2 separate regions of the Homo sapiens genome follow, and region 1 is linked to region 2. The links come from fine-mapping of genetic effects on gene expression. Tissue or cell type: non-classical monocytes. Region 2 holds a variant in brackets; the other region holds the start of a gene. All regions are shown on one strand. Distances are from middle to middle.

Region 1 (8,000 bases), 530 kb before region 2:
CTTTCCACAAGCTGAGGAGTCTCTTGCCATGGCCACTTCCACCCCAGGCCTGTGGTGGGTACTGTCTGGCTACTGCTGATGTATACTCAAGGCCCAAGGGCTCTGCAGTAAGCTTGTGGTGAACGCTGCCCAGCCTGGGACTCACCCTTCAGGGAAGCAGGCTCCCCTCTGGCCCAGAGCAGGTCCAGGAATGCTATCTAAGAGCCAAAGCCTGGAATCAGGGACCTTAAGAGGCCACTTGGTATTCTAACCCCACAGTGGCCAAGTCCCCTTTACTCTTTCCACTTCTTTTCTCAAGCAGAAGGAATTTCTCCCCATAGCCACCACAGCTGTAATGTGCTGGGTCACACCTTAAGCCTGCACGTCTCTGAGTCTCACCCAAAGCCCATGATGAGTACTACCTGGCTACTTCTGATTATTCAGGGCCAAAGGGCTCTTTAGTCAGCTGGTGAGGAATCCTGCCAGGACTGGTCCTTCCCTTCAAGGCAGCAGGTTCCCTTCTGGCCCAGGGTGTGGCTAGAAATGTCAGCTTGGAGCTATGGCCTGGAATGTGGGCCTCAGGACTTTGCCTGGTGCCCTATCCTACTGCAGCTGAGCTGGTATCCAATGCAAGACAAACTCATCTTTGTTCTTCCCTCTCCTCTTCTCAAGCAGAGGAAAGAAGTCTCTCTCTGAGCTTTGAGCTGCCCTGCCTGGGGTTGGGAGAGGGGTGGTGCAAGCAATCCCTTGGCCATCCCAGCTAGTGTCTCACTAGGTTGTGTGCCCCCCACATTCACTGGCTCTGAGCCCAGCACAGCACCAGGACTTACCCAGGAATTGCCATCCTTGTGGCCTAGACTGCCTTTCAAGTTTATGTAGAACCTCAGAGCACTTCAGCCCATGGTGGGGAGGCTTACTGGAACTCAGGTTCCCACTGCTGGGATGGGTGATTTGCCTCTAGCTAGGGCTGGTCTAAATGATCCCTCCATGGGACCTGGGTGAGTTCTTCCCAGTGTTGCTTTGTGCTATGACTGGGCAGCACTGAGTTCCAATGCAAAGTCTGAAAATCACTGCACTCTTCCTCTCCCAGAAGCACACATTCTCTCTCCATGCCAGGTGGCCGCTGCCGGCGAATGGGGGAGAGATAGCATTTAGCAATTCAAGACTGTCTTACCCTCTTCAGTTACTCTTTCAGTGATACGAAGTTAAAACCAGGTACTGTGATCACTCACCTGATTTTTGGTTCTTATGAAGGTGCTTTTTTTTGTGTGGATCATTATTCAATTTGGTGTTCCTGCAGGGAGCAGGATTAGTGGAGGCGTCTATTCAGCCATCTTGCTCCACCTCCCCTAGCTATGTCCTTTTAAATATTTATAATCGACATACAATATATTACACTTAAAGTATACAATAAGTTCTAAAATATAACTGAAATCATCATCGAACTCTAGATAATTAACATATCCATCAACCCTAAAGTTTCCTCATGTTTAGATGATCTCCTTTCCCTCTAGAAACCACTCATCTACTTTCTGTCATATAGATTATAGTTTGCCTTTTCTGGAGTTTTATATAAACAGAATCATATAGTATATGTTCTTTTCTGTCTGACTTCTTTTATTTACCATGATTATTTCATCCATGTTACATGTATCAACAGTTTATTCCTTGTTTGTTGATGATAGTATTTCATTGTATGGATATATACTCCAATGGGTTTATTCATTTACCTGTTGATGTATGTTGGATCGTTTCTAGTTTTCAGCTATCACAAATAAAACTGCTATAAACATTAAACATTAATGTCCAAGTCTTTGTATAGACATATGCTTTCATTTTCTCTTGGGCAAATACCTTGGGTGGAGTGGCTGGATATTATGGCCAGTGTATGTTTAACTTTATAAAGAGCTGTCGAAGTGTTTTCCTTTTTCTTTTTTCTTTTTGAGATGAAGTCTTGCTCTGTTGCCCAGGCTGGAGTGCAGTGGTGCAATCTCGGCTCATTGCAACCTCTGCCTCCCAGGTTCAAGCAATTCTCCTGCCTCAGCCTCCTGAGTAGTTGGGGTTACAGATGCCTGCCACCATGCCTAGCTAATTTTTGTATTTTTAGTAGAGACAGGGTTTCACCATGTTGGCCAGGCTGGTCTCAAACTCCTGATCTCAAGTGATCTGCCCGCCTTGACCTCCCAAAGTGCTCAGATTACAGGTGTGAGCCACCACATCCAGCCCCAAATTGTTTATACCATTTTATATTCCTACCAGGATTGTATGAGAGTTCCAGTTCTTCTAAATTCTTGCCAACATTTACTACTTTGAATAAATGTTCATTGTAAAAAAATTTTAAGAGGGTTATATAGGGGAAAAAAAGGCCGCTATTAATCTGTTAATTGCACTACTGGGAGATAAAGCTATTAAACTGTCATATTTGTGGCTGGGCGTGGTAACACATGCTTGTGATCCTAGCACTTTAGGAGGCTGGGGAAGGAGGATCACTTGAGACCAGGAGTTCGAGACCAGCCTGGGCAACACAGCAAGACTCTGTCTCCACAAAAATATTAAAAATTAAAAAAAAAAGAAATTGTCATGTTTGTAGACTTCCCAAATTTGCCATCCTAGGCAAACAGTGCTCTTGTTTTTAAACAAATAGTTGTATACATAATTTTCCCCCTCACTATTCAAAACATGTCATAAATGGTAAGTCCAAGAAAAATACAGGTATTCCCCCCCAAAGAAAACTGTAAAATCGACTTTTTTCTATCTGTACTGTTTTTTATTGGTTTTTAAATTGGTTTTCCAAGTGAGTAAATCAGAATCTATCTGTAATGGATTTTAAATTTAGTGTTTCTCTGTGATGTAGTAAACAAGAAACTAGAGGCAAAAATAGCCCTGTCCCTTGCTAAACTTCTAAGGCACTTTTCTAGTACAACTCAACACTAACATTTCAGGCCTTTAGTGCCTTATATGAGTTTTTAAAAGGGGGAAAAGGGAGGGAGCAAGAGTGTCTTAACTCATACATTTAGGCATAACAATTATTCTCATATTTTAGTTATTGAGAGGGCTGGTAGAAAAACTAGGTAAATAATATTAATAATTATAGCGCTTATTAAACACTACAGAACACTTACTATGTACCAGGCATTGTGGGAGGCTCTCTCTTGTGCATTATCTCATTTCATTAGGTCCATGGAGAGTATTGCATTTTCTTAGTTTAGGCATGGCCTCCACAATAAAGATTATCAAAAGCCTAAAAATATGTAAAAGAAACCTAGAAGTTATTTGTTGTGCTCCTTGGGGAAGCTAGGCAAATCCTTTCAACTGAAAACCATGGTGACTTCCAAGATCTCTGCCCCTCCCCATCGCCATGGTCCACTTCCTCTTCTCACTGTTCCTCTTAGAAAAGATCTGTGGACTCCACCACCACGAAATGGCGGCACCTTATTTATGGTCACTTTAGAGGGTAGGTTTTCTTAATGGGTCTGCCTGTCATGTTTAACGTCCTTGGCTGGGTCCAAGGCAGATGCAGTCCAAACTCTCACTAAAATTGCCGAGCCCTTTGTCTTCCAGTGTCTAAAATATTAATGTCAATGGAATCAGGCCAGAGTTTGAATTCTAGTCTCTTAGCCTTTGTTTCCCCTGTCCATAAAATGAATGGGGGTAATTCTTTCCTCCTACAGTTTATTTATATATTCACTAATTCATTCATTCATCCATCCATTCGTTCATTCGGTTTACTGAGTACCTACTATGTGCCAGCCCCTGTTCTAGGGTGGAAACTAAGAGAATGATGTACCTAGAGGGCGCTGGAAGCTCTAAAGCCCTAGCAGTTACTGCTTTTACTATTAGTGGTCGTTTTTTTCTCCCCCCCGCCCCCCGACAAATCAACAGAACAAAGAAAATTACCTAAACAGCAAGGACATAGGGAGGAACTTCTTGGCACAGAACTTTCCAAACACTTTTTCCTGAAGGGATACAAGAAGCAAGAAAGGTACTCTTTCACTAGGACCTTCTCTGAGCTGTCCTCAGGATGCTTTTGGGACTATTTTTCTTACCCAGAGAATGGAGAAACCCTGCAGGGAATTCCCAAGCTGTAGTTATAAACAGAAGTTCTCCTTCTGCTAGGTAGCATTCAAAGATCTTAATCTTCTGGGTTTCCGTTTTCTCGAATGAAAAATGCAGGTCCGAGCAGTTAACTGGCTGGGGCACCATTAGCAAGTCACTTAGCATCTCTGGGGCCAGTCTGCAAAGCGAGGGGGCAGCCTTAATGTGCCTCCAGCCTGAAGTCCTAGAATGAGCGCCCGGTGTCCCAAGCTGGGGCGCGCACCCCAGATCGGAGGGCGCCGATGTACAGACAGCAAACTCACCCAGTCTAGTGCATGCCTTCTTAAACATCACGAGACTCTAAGAAAAGGAAACTGAAAACGGGAAAGTCCCTCTCTCTAACCTGGCACTGCGTCGCTGGCTTGGAGACAGGTGACGGTCCCTGCGGGCCTTGTCCTGATTGGCTGGGCACGCGTTTAATATAAGTGGAGGCGTCGCGCTGGCGGGCATTCCTGAAGCTGACAGCATTCGGGCCGAGATGTCTCGCTCCGTGGCCTTAGCTGTGCTCGCGCTACTCTCTCTTTCTGGCCTGGAGGCTATCCAGCGTGAGTCTCTCCTACCCTCCCGCTCTGGTCCTTCCTCTCCCGCTCTGCACCCTCTGTGGCCCTCGCTGTGCTCTCTCGCTCCGTGACTTCCCTTCTCCAAGTTCTCCTTGGTGGCCCGCCGTGGGGCTAGTCCAGGGCTGGATCTCGGGGAAGCGGCGGGGTGGCCTGGGAGTGGGGAAGGGGGTGCGCACCCGGGACGCGCGCTACTTGCCCCTTTCGGCGGGGAGCAGGGGAGACCTTTGGCCTACGGCGACGGGAGGGTCGGGACAAAGTTTAGGGCGTCGATAAGCGTCAGAGCGCCGAGGTTGGGGGAGGGTTTCTCTTCCGCTCTTTCGCGGGGCCTCTGGCTCCCCCAGCGCAGCTGGAGTGGGGGACGGGTAGGCTCGTCCCAAAGGCGCGGCGCTGAGGTTTGTGAACGCGTGGAGGGGCGCTTGGGGTCTGGGGGAGGCGTCGCCCGGGTAAGCCTGTCTGCTGCGGCTCTGCTTCCCTTAGACTGGAGAGCTGTGGACTTCGTCTAGGCGCCCGCTAAGTTCGCATGTCCTAGCACCTCTGGGTCTATGTGGGGCCACACCGTGGGGAGGAAACAGCACGCGACGTTTGTAGAATGCTTGGCTGTGATACAAAGCGGTTTCGAATAATTAACTTATTTGTTCCCATCACATGTCACTTTTAAAAAATTATAAGAACTACCCGTTATTGACATCTTTCTGTGTGCCAAGGACTTTATGTGCTTTGCGTCATTTAATTTTGAAAACAGTTATCTTCCGCCATAGATAACTACTATGGTTATCTTCTGCCTCTCACAGATGAAGAAACTAAGGCACCGAGATTTTAAGAAACTTAATTACACAGGGGATAAATGGCAGCAATCGAGATTGAAGTCAAGCCTAACCAGGGCTTTTGCGGGAGCGCATGCCTTTTGGCTGTAATTCGTGCATTTTTTTTTAAGAAAAACGCCTGCCTTCTGCGTGAGATTCTCCAGAGCAAACTGGGCGGCATGGGCCCTGTGGTCTTTTCGTACAGAGGGCTTCCTCTTTGGCTCTTTGCCTGGTTGTTTCCAAGATGTACTGTGCCTCTTACTTTCGGTTTTGAAAACATGAGGGGGTTGGGCGTGGTAGCTTACGCCTGTAATCCCAGCACTTAGGGAGGCCGAGGCGGGAGGATGGCTTGAGGTCCGTAGTTGAGACCAGCCTGGCCAACATGGTGAAGCCTGGTCTCTACAAAAAATAATAACAAAAATTAGCCGGGTGTGGTGGCTCGTGCCTGTGGTCCCAGCTGCTCCGGTGGCTGAGGCGGGAGGATCTCTTGAGCTTAGGCTTTTGAGCTATCATGGCGCCAGTGCACTCCAGCGTGGGCAACAGAGCGAGACCCTGTCTCTCAAAAAAGAAAAAAAAAAAAAAAGAAAGAGAAAAGAAAAGAAAGAAAGAAGTGAAGGTTTGTCAGTCAGGGGAGCTGTAAAACCATTAATAAAGATAATCCAAGATGGTTACCAAGACTGTTGAGGACGCCAGAGATCTTGAGCACTTTCTAAGTACCTGGCAATACACTAAGCGCGCTCACCTTTTCCTCTGGCAAAACATGATCGAAAGCAGAATGTTTTGATCATGAGAAAATTGCATTTAATTTGAATACAATTTATTTACAACATAAAGGATAATGTATATATCACCACCATTACTGGTATTTGCTGGTTATGTTAGATGTCATTTTAAAAAATAACAATCTGATATTTAAAAAAAAATCTTATTTTGAAAATTTCCAAAGTAATACATGCCATGCATAGACCATTTCTGGAAGATACCACAAGAAACATGTAATGATGATTGCCTCTGAAGGTCTATTTTCCTCCTCTGACCTGTGTGTGGGTTTTGTTTTTGTTTTACTGTGGGCATAAATTAATTTTTCAGTTAAGTTTTGGAAGCTTAAATAACTCTCCAAAAGTCATAAAGCCAGTAACTGGTTGAGCCCAAATTCAAACCCAGCCTGTCTGATACTTGTCCTCTTCTTAGAAAAGATTACAGTGATGCTCTCACAAAATCTTGCCGCCTTCCCTCAAACAGAGAGTTCCAGGCAGGATGAATCTGTGCTCTGATCCCTGAGGCATTTAATATGTTCTTATTATTAGAAGCTCAGATGCAAAGAGCTCTCTTAGCTTTTAATGTTATGAAAAAAATCAGGTCTTCATTAGATTCCCCAATCCACCTCTTGATGGGGCTAGTAGCCTTTCCTTAATGATAGGGTGTTTCTAGAGAGATATATCTGGTCAAGGTGGCCTGGTACTCCTCCTTCTCCCCACAGCCTCCCAGACAAGGAGGAGTAGCTGCCTTTTAGTGATCATGTACCCTGAATATAAGTGTATTTAAAAGAATTTTATACACATATATTTAGTGTCAATCTGTATATTTAGTAGCACTAACACTTCTCTTCATTTTCAATGAAAAATATAGAGTTTATAATATTTTCTTCCCACTTCCCCATGGATGGTCTAGTCATGCCTCTCATTTTGGAAAGTACTGTTTCTGAAACATTAGGCAATATATTCCCAACCTGGCTAGTTTACAGCAATCACCTGTGGATGCTAATTAAAACGCAAATCCCACTGTCACATGCATTACTCCATTTGATCATAATGGAAAGTATGTTCTGTCCCATTTGCCATAGTCCTCACCTATCCCTGTTGTATTTTATCGGGTCCAACTCAACCATTTAAGGTATTTGCCAGCTCTTGTATGCATTTAGGTTTTGTTTCTTTGTTTTTTAGCTCATGAAATTAGGTACAAAGTCAGAGAGGGGTCTGGCATATAAAACCTCAGCAGAAATAAAGAGGTTTTGTTGTTTGGTAAGAACATACCTTGGGTTGGTTGGGCACGGTGGCTCGTGCCTGTAATCCCAACACTTTGGGAGGCCAAGGCAGGCTGATCACTTGAAGTTGGGAGTTCAAGACCAGCCTGGCCAACATGGTGAAATCCCGTCTCTACTGAAAATACAAAAATTAACCAGGCATGGTGGTGTGTGCCTGTAGTCCCAGGAATCACTTGAACCCAGGAGGCGGAGGTTGCAGTGAGCTGAGATCTCACCACTGCACACTGCACTCCAGCCTGGGCAATGGAATGAGATTCCATCCCAAAAAATAAAAAAATAAAAAAATAAAGAACATACCTTGGGTTGATCCACTTAGGAACCTCAGATAATAACATCTGCCACGTATAGAGCAATTGCTATGTCCCAGGCACTCTACTAGACACTTCATACAGTTTAGAAAATCAGATGGGTGTAGATCAAGGCAGGAGCAGGAACCAAAAAGAAAGGCATAAACATAAGAAAAAAAATGGAAGGGGTGGAAACAGAGTACAATAACATGAGTAATTTGATGGGGGCTAT
Region 2 (8,264 bases):
TAAACCATCCAAATTTGTTTATCATAATTTAAAAATCCTGCTGCTGGCCCCAGGCAGATGGGAGGAAAGCGATAACCAATGGAAACATTCATTAACATTCCTTCCTCCTCTGGATGAGTAGGACCTCGGTTATCTGTTGGTCCAGGCATCCAGACACTATCATTAATATAAACCTCCACCAGGGGGTCTAACCATGTAACAGACCTAATCAGTGGGGGAATGGAATGTAGGCCCAATAAATGTAATTTTGATCTGCCCCAGCTACGGGGAGACTCACCGCCAAGGAGATTACTGCCATCATAGCTATCATTAGATTACTGGTGGTCAGCAGCTTGTTCTGAGACCTCAGGTTCTCGTCTGCAATGTGAGCTAGTCTCCTCATCTGCCCACAGGTCGGTGGAGTTGCTTGGCAAGTTTTACTGGTTTCCATCTGCTCAACAGAGATGTTCATCTGAGCCATCTGATGAACCAGGGGTGCAGGGACATTCCGAGGTCTTTTCCTCTTCCTTGGATTCTGGCTCATGGCACAGCTTAAGATGTCTTGTGGGTACCCAGACAGGAAGCTGATTCTCTCCTGGCAAGATACAAGCAAAACCCTCGACCCCATGTAATGATTTTGCCCTTTTCCCAAGTTTGGTTCTGACGTCCTTCCACTACATGTTTTCCTTCATGAGGATTTATTTTTTGTCCTGTCAAATGCTGCTCTGCTGCCGTTGTAACCTGATCTCTAGACAAATTCAAAAAATTTAAAGTGATAAGAGCCAATTATAGCTGCATATGGAGAGTAGAGTGTTCTCTGGTTCCCCCCTCTGTCTTTTGTTTTTGTAATTGAGATTTTAAGGTTCGATTAGCCTGTTCAACAATGTCTTGGCCTTGAGAATTACAGGGTATTCCACTACTGTGCTCAATGTGCCATTGTTGAAGAAACGCTTGTGAAGATTTACTATAGTAGCCTGGGCCACTGTCTGTTTTAATCTTTTGTGGGATGTCCATGGCAGCAAAACAAAAAAGTAAATGTCTTTTAATATGAGCAGCTGCCTCACCTGTTTGGCAAGCTGCCCATACAAAATGAGAAAAGGTATCTATAGTAACATGGACGTATGAAAGTTTCCTGAATGAAGGTACATGGGTTACGTCCATTTGCCACAACATATTGTGGGTTAATCCCCACGGATTAACACCAGTCCCTTCACGTGGCAGTTGTAGTACCTGGCACTGAGGGCAATGTTGCACAATGTCCTTTGCCTGTCTCCAAGTAATCTGACATTTTTGTTTAAGTCCTGCTGCTAACATGTGTTAGGGAGTGAAAATCTTGGGCATTAGTAAGCACAGTGGAAACTAGCAAATCAGCTTGATAGTTAGCCCTTACAAGTGGCCCTGGGAGATTAATGTGTCCTCAAATGTGCATAATATAGAAAGGAAAACAGCGATCATGCACTGCCTTTTGTAAAGAAGAAAACAGCTGATAGAGTTGTTCATCTGCAAGATATTTAGTGAGTGCAGTTTATATGTATTGAGTGGTTTGAACAACATAAGCTGAATCAGAGACAATATTTACAGGTTGCTTAAAGTCTTCTAACACAGCTATAACTGCCTGTAATTCAGTCCTCTGTGCTGATTCAAAGTCAGTTTGAATAATTCTGTTTTTAGGTCCAACATAAGCTGCTTTTCCATTGCTAGAGCCATCTGTAAACACAGTCACTGCTCCTTCCAATGGAGTACTATGGGTAATTTTTGGAAGGACCCATGTTGTTAGCTTTAAAAACTGAAAAATTTTGTTTTTTGGATAATGATTGTCAAGAACTTCAGTGAAGCCAGCTAAATTTATTTGCCAATTGACTGAATTAAGAAAGGCTTGCTGAATCTGATTTTTATTCATTGAAACTATAATCTTATCTGGATCTGAGCCACAAAGTTTAACAACTCTAAGGCGAGCTTGTCCAATCAAGATTACGATCTGGTCCAAGTATACTGTGAGTGTTCTAACAGTATTGTGAGGCAGAAAAGAACATTCAACTAAGTCCTCACTCTGAACTATAACCCCTGTAGGAGAATGGAAAGTAGGGAACACAATGAACTATAATGGTAAACTTGAGTCTATTCTATTAACCTGGGCCTGTTGTATTTTTTCTTCAATCATTTGTAATTCTTTGGCAGCCTCAGGAGTCAGTTCTTGTTTACTATTGAGAGCAGGGTCTCCTCTTAAAATAGAGAACAGATTAGACATAGCATAGGTAGGGATTCCCAAAGTAGGTCAAATCCAATTGATATCCCCTAGTAATTTTTGAAAATCCTTTAAAGTTTTCAGAGAGTCTTTTCGAATTTGAACCTTTTGGGGTTTAATTGCCCTTTCCTGAACCTGCATTCCCAAATATTGGAAAGGAGTGACCGTTTGAATTTTATCTGGTGCTATGAACAATCCAGCACTGGCTACCACCTCCTGTAAATATGAATAACACTGGATAAGTTGGTCTTGATTTTCGGCTGCACACAATATGTCATCCATATAATGAATGATATACGAATCGGGAAACTGATCTCTCACAGGTTGAGTAGCCTTCCCCACAAAAGTTTGACAAATAGTAGGACTATTCAACCTACCCTGCAGCAGGACTTTCCAATGATATCTGGCTGCTGGTTCCCTGTTGTTTGTTCATAGCAGGAATAGTAAAAGCAAATTTCTCAAAATTAGACTCTGCTAGAGGAATATTACAAAAGCAATACTTCAAATCTATAATTATTAATGGCCAGTCTCTAGGAATCATGGTGAAGGATGGAAGCCCTGGCTGCAGGGACCCCATTGGCTGGATGACTGCACTGACCACTTGTAAGTCGGTTAGCATGTGGCATCTGCTGCATTTTTTTATTTATTACAAACACTGGCTAATTCCATGGAGAAAATGTGGGCTCAATGTTTCCTTTGTTTAATTGCTCTTTGACTAATTCCTGTAAGGCCCCCAATTTTTCCTGAGAAAGCAGCCACTGCTTGACCCAAACAGGATTTTGGGTCTTCCATTTTAAGGGAATAGGATTTGGAGGCTCAACGGTGACTGCCCCTAAAAATGGTAACCTAATCCTGTTCAGTCATTTTTTACAGTAACCTGTATGGGTTCAGTAATGCCCATCTCCTGTTTTCCTAGGCCTTTTCCAGGAACATAGCCCATGTTTGACATTATTTTTTGACTGGCTTGACCATACCAGGGAGAAGGGATTGAAATTTCTCTGCCCCATTTGTGAAGCAGATCTCTCCCCCATAAGTTAACAGGAATGGATGTAATTAGAGGTTGTATTGTGCCTTCCTGTTCTTCTGGACCAAGACACGGTAAGATAAAAGTACTTTGGAAAACTTCTGAAGCAGTTCTGACCCCAACAAGACCCACTGGGGCCTTTTGTTTGGGCCAGTTTTTTGGCCATTGATAAAGAGCTATGATCGACACATCTGCTCCTGTGTCGACCAGACCCTCAAATTGTTTTCCTTGAATAG[T/C]GACCATACAAATAGGACTATTGTCAGAGACTTGATTTACCCAATAGGCAGCCTTGCCTGCTGAATTCGTGCTTCCAAATCCTCCTGTTCTTTTTTCTGAGCTTTCTCCTAACTTAACATATGGTAAAAGCAACATTTGAGCTATTCTGTCACCTGGATTAGCACTCCAGGGAACAGTGGAGGAGATAACAATTTGAATTTCTCCCTGGCAATCAGAGTCCACTACTCCAGTATGTACTTGAATTCCTTTTAAGTTTAAGCTGGACCTTCCCAGTATAAGTCCCACTGTGACATTTGGCAATGGGCCATAAACTCCCATTGAGACCTTCCTAGGAGGCTCCTCAGGAAGGAGGGATACAGCTTCCGTACAGCATAAATCTACTGCCCTGCTTTTAGCTGTGGAGGGGGACAATTGCTGTACATTTGTACAGGGATAGGCTGGGCCAGGAACACTCTGTTTGGAGTCAGGGATGTCCCATCCTGAATTGGGAATGCCCCATTTTGAATCGGGGCCCAGGGCTGGCCCCTCTGTCTGCTTCCTGGCAAGGGCTGTCCTCTGTTATCAAACTTTGAATGACATTGATTAGACCAGTGTTTTCCTTTTTTACATCTAGGACAGGTCCCTGGTTCCCTGCTTTTTCCTCCTGAGTTTTGCCTTTTTTGGCTCTTTCTACATTCTCTTTTTGTATGTCCTATCTGTCCACAATTATATCAAGATCCAGGGAACACTCGTGTGTTTTTTGTTACCCTTAGTCCAGCCATTGCCTGAGCAAGGAGGATGGCCTTATATAAGTGATCCCTAATGCCACTGCAGGCTTTAATGTATTCACTTAAAGTTTTTTCCTCATTTAGATCTGCCTTTCCCTTAATAGGTCTAATTGCTGCCTGACATTCTGTATTAGCATTTTCATAAGCAAGCAGTTGAACTTTCCTGGCATGAGAATCCAAAATAGCCTTTGAGCTGTGTCTTGCAAACGGGCGATAAAATCTGGATGAGGCTCCCTTGGACCCTGTCGAACTGAGTTAAAAGAAGGATAAGTAGTACCAGGGTCATGAATTTTTTCCCAGGCTCTTAGGCATATACTTCTGAGCTGATCAACAGCCTCATCACCCATTACCATCTGTTGATTTATAGTACCTCATGCCTGTCCGATTCCAAGCAATTGATCAGATGTGATATTAATGGGAGGTTGAGCTTGAGCATTTCTGCATGCCTGATTTGTTGCTTCATCTGTACACCAGGCTTTAAATTGCAGAAATGGAGAGGGGGATAGGGTGGATTGGGCTAATGACTCCCAATCCATAGGTATTAAACACCTGTTATAAGCCACAGATTGTAACAAGGAATGAACATAAGGAGAATTCGGCCCATATTGTCCTATTGCTTGCTTTAAGTCTTTTAATATTTTAAAAGGAAATGGCTCCTAGCGTGCTTGGGCATGTTCTCTGGGCTCCTCAGCTGGCGAAATAATTACCAGAAACTGCCAAGCATCCAAATCCCTGATTTCTCATCCCTGGCGAATGGATGCCTGGATTGTCCCTGTGCCATAATTTGTATTTGGGCCGGCTTGCAGCATTCCTTTACTATAATTAACAGGTGGACAAGCCTGGATCATTCCCTCACTGTAATTGGCTGTTGGGCCAGCCTGAAGCTTCCCTTTGCCACAGTTAATGGTGGGGCGTGCAACAATGGGAGTGACAAGCTGCATCTCAGGCTCTCATTTCAAAAATTCATAAGGCTGAGGTGGGGGTGGCCATTCCGGACCTTCCCCTAAAGGCACAGTAGGTGGCACTATTTCTGCAGTAGGTGGAACTGTTTCTTTCATAAGTTTTTGGAGGTTAGCATATATAGCTTCCTGTTTCTTCCCCTTTTTAAAATTAGACTGTGATGGTTCACTTTGCTGATCATCAGAATCCTGATTATTAAACTTTTCTATGTCATCCTGAAACTCCTTCTCCTCCTCAGCGTGGAAGGGCTCTAGTGCTGTTTTAATTGCTGACCACACAGACCAAGCGGAGAAAGGAATATCGTGGCCCTCTTGTTGTGCTCGTTTTAAGTCTGATCCAACCTTGTCCCAATCTTTTACATTCATGGTTCCATATTCCAGGAACCAAGGAGAATACTTTTCTACGAGATGGAACAAAGATGTGAGATTTTGGGTACTCACAATTACCCCCCACCACGGCACAATAACTGCCGCACCAGGCTTAAGTAATTAACAAACTTACTTTCAGCCTGACCCATATTTTCCTGAGGTTACCCTGGAATTCTCCAAGTGCCCTACTTACCCATAGAGCCTGAAGTAAAAACGTACTCAGGCATCCTTCATCAGTCGTCCTCCACTTTCCACACTCTGGCGTTTCTTCACTGGATTATTTGTAGAGATTATGGGGAGCCCCATGTTGGGCGCCAGATGTTGGGGAAACCAGCCCCACATCACCCAGCGGGTACACTGAGTCTAGAGGAAACAAAGGAGTTAGAAAGAGACAGAATAGCGTTTAAAAGGCGGGTCCAGGGGACTGGAGCATCGGAGGCTTGCTCACAGCCCAGAGCTCTCAGGCTCTGCCCCAATTTATCGGTTTACAAGCTCTTTGTTCTTAGGGCAGATGGGAGGGGGAGGAAGGGATGAGGAAAAGGATTAATCAGTGAAGGAGAACTCATGAGTCATTCGATAAGATGTATAGCAGTGGCGGTTTCTGTGAATTTCCTTGAACAAAGGCGTGTGTCTAAACTACTTAAGATCTTGAACTTATCGGGACTGAAATGGGTTGGAGCAGGTTTCAGGAGGAGCCAAGATGTTTGATTATACTCCACTGCTTCAAGGGAGTGTTATCTCCCTGAGCAACCTGTGGAATGCCACTGAGCAGTTATGCTCTTCGGGCATAAAGACATGAAGGCAATAAGGAGACTTTTCTCCTCAGAGGCCGCCCATGGCTTCCCATGTGTGTCTCACACAGGGGAGTCCAACTCAACTGGCACCTCAGAAACTCTCTTTCTCACAGGTCTCGAACTCTTGACCTCAGGTGATCCACCTTCCTAGGCCTCCCAAAGTGTTGGGATTACAGGTGTGAGCCACTGCACCCAGCTAAAACAGGTATTTTAATACATCCCTTATACATTAACTTATGTTAAAGAAGGTAGAGGAAGTAATGAGCTTGATGGAGATATAAATGAAAGACATAAAAAGAGATTTGAAATAGAACTCTGGGCCAGGTGTGGTGGCTCATGCCTATAATTCTAGCACTTTGGGAGGCTGAGGTGGGTGGATTGTCTCAGCTCAGGAGTCCGAGTCCAGCCTGGGCAACATAGTGAAACCCCATCCCTAAAAATACAAAAAATTAGCTGGGCATGGCAGTGTGTGCCTGTAATCCCAGCTACTTGGGAGGCTGAGACAAGAGAATCACTTGAATCCAGAGGCAAAGGTTGCAGTGAGCCGAGATCATGCCATTACACTCTAGCTTGGCCGACAGAGTGAGACTCCACCTCAAAAAAAAAAAAGAAAGAAAAAAAGAAATAGAACCTCTGAATATGAAAAATACAACATCTGAAATGAAAAGTACACTGGATAGGATTAATAGCAGCTTAGACATCATAGAAGAAAAATCAAACTGAAAGATACAGAGAAAAAAAGACTGGAAGAAACAGCGAGAACACCATATTAGAGATTCATGAAATATCATTAAGTGGCCTGGTGTACATTTAATTTGAGTCCCAGAAAGAAGAGATAAAAGGGGAAGATAGAACTCCTAGGGTCAAACAATCCTCCCACCTCAGCCTCCAAAGTAGCTGAGAATATAGATGTGCACCATGACACTGGGATTTGACTTGTTTTTAAGTTCACTGATTCTCTTCTTAGTTAAGCTGAGTCTGCCAATAAGCCTGTCAGAGCTATTCTTCATATTTGTTACCATGTTTTTTTATTTTTAGCACTTTCATTTGGTCCTTTCTTATAGTTTTCTTCTCTCCTGACAGTCTTTTTTTTTTTTTTTTTTTTTTTTTTTTTTTTTTTTTTTTGAGATGGAGTCTCACTGTGTTGCCCAGGCTGGAGTGCAGTGGCACAATCCTGACTCACTGCAACCTCCACCTCCCAGGTTCAAGTGATTCTCCTGCCTCAGTCTCTTAAGTAGCTGAGGCTATAGGTACGTGCCACCATGCCTGGCTAATTTTTGTGTAGTTTTAGTAGAGGTGAGCTTTCACCATGTTGGCCAGGCTGATCTCAAACTCCTGACCTCTAGTGATCTGCCTGCCTCGGCCTCCTAAAGTATTGGGATTGCAGGCATGAGCCATGTCGCCCAGTCAGTCCTCATCTCTTTATGCATGTTTTCCTCCTTTTCCACTACAGCCTTTAACATGTTAATCTTAATTATTTTAAATTCTCCATATAATAAGTGGATTATTTTAAAGGTCTTCATCCTCATTGTCTTCACATCAAATAGGCTGAGGAGGAGAAGGAAGGGGAGGGGTTGGTCTTGCTATCTGAGGAGCGGCAGAGGCAGAAGAAAATCTGCATGTAAGCAGACCCACACAATTCAAATCCGTGCTGTTCAAGGGTCAACTGTAGTTGGAAGCTATGATGATGGTTTTAGTGTATACTTTTAGTAGAATGATGTAGTTAATTTTGTATAATTAACTGCATTTATGAGTCTTTAAACTTAAAAATGATAAGGAAAACTATCTCCTTAGTTTTAAAGTTGCTTTAACAGGCAGGGCAAGGTGGCTTACACCTGCAATCCCAGCACTTTGGGAGGCCAAGGTGGGTGTTCAGGAGTTCAAGACCAG

Alleles and levels. Alleles are on the strand shown, and positions count from the first base shown. SD is a standard deviation of normalised expression in the study named.
With allele C in place of T in region 2, the expression in non-classical monocytes of the gene that starts at base 4,329 in region 1 is higher (large effect, 1.0 SD a copy in Schmiedel 2018).

What was found. PIP is the estimated chance that this variant, and not a neighbour inherited with it, causes the effect.
Region 1: PATL2 starts here. The variant in region 2 is fine-mapped to the expression of PATL2 in non-classical monocytes (Schmiedel 2018, PIP 0.95).

What each region holds. Positions count from the first base shown.
Region 1 is chr15:44,706,995-44,714,994 of GRCh38, forward strand. It overlaps PATL2 (PAT1 homolog 2), which reads right to left and starts at 4,329. Exons shown (of 18, transcript NM_001387263.1): 1 at 4,026-4,329; 2 at 3,877-3,935; 3 at 3,102-3,220. B2M (beta-2-microglobulin) reads left to right here and starts at 4,523. Exons shown (of 4, transcript NM_004048.4): 1 at 4,523-4,619. The coding sequence starts at 4,553. RefSeq lists an enhancer at 4,344-5,006.
Region 2 is chr15:45,236,588-45,244,851 of GRCh38, forward strand. No RefSeq gene overlaps it. Among named protein-coding and RNA genes, the nearest start is that of SLC28A2, 12 kb to the right of the region's middle. The variant T/C (reference allele first, on the strand shown) is at 3,485.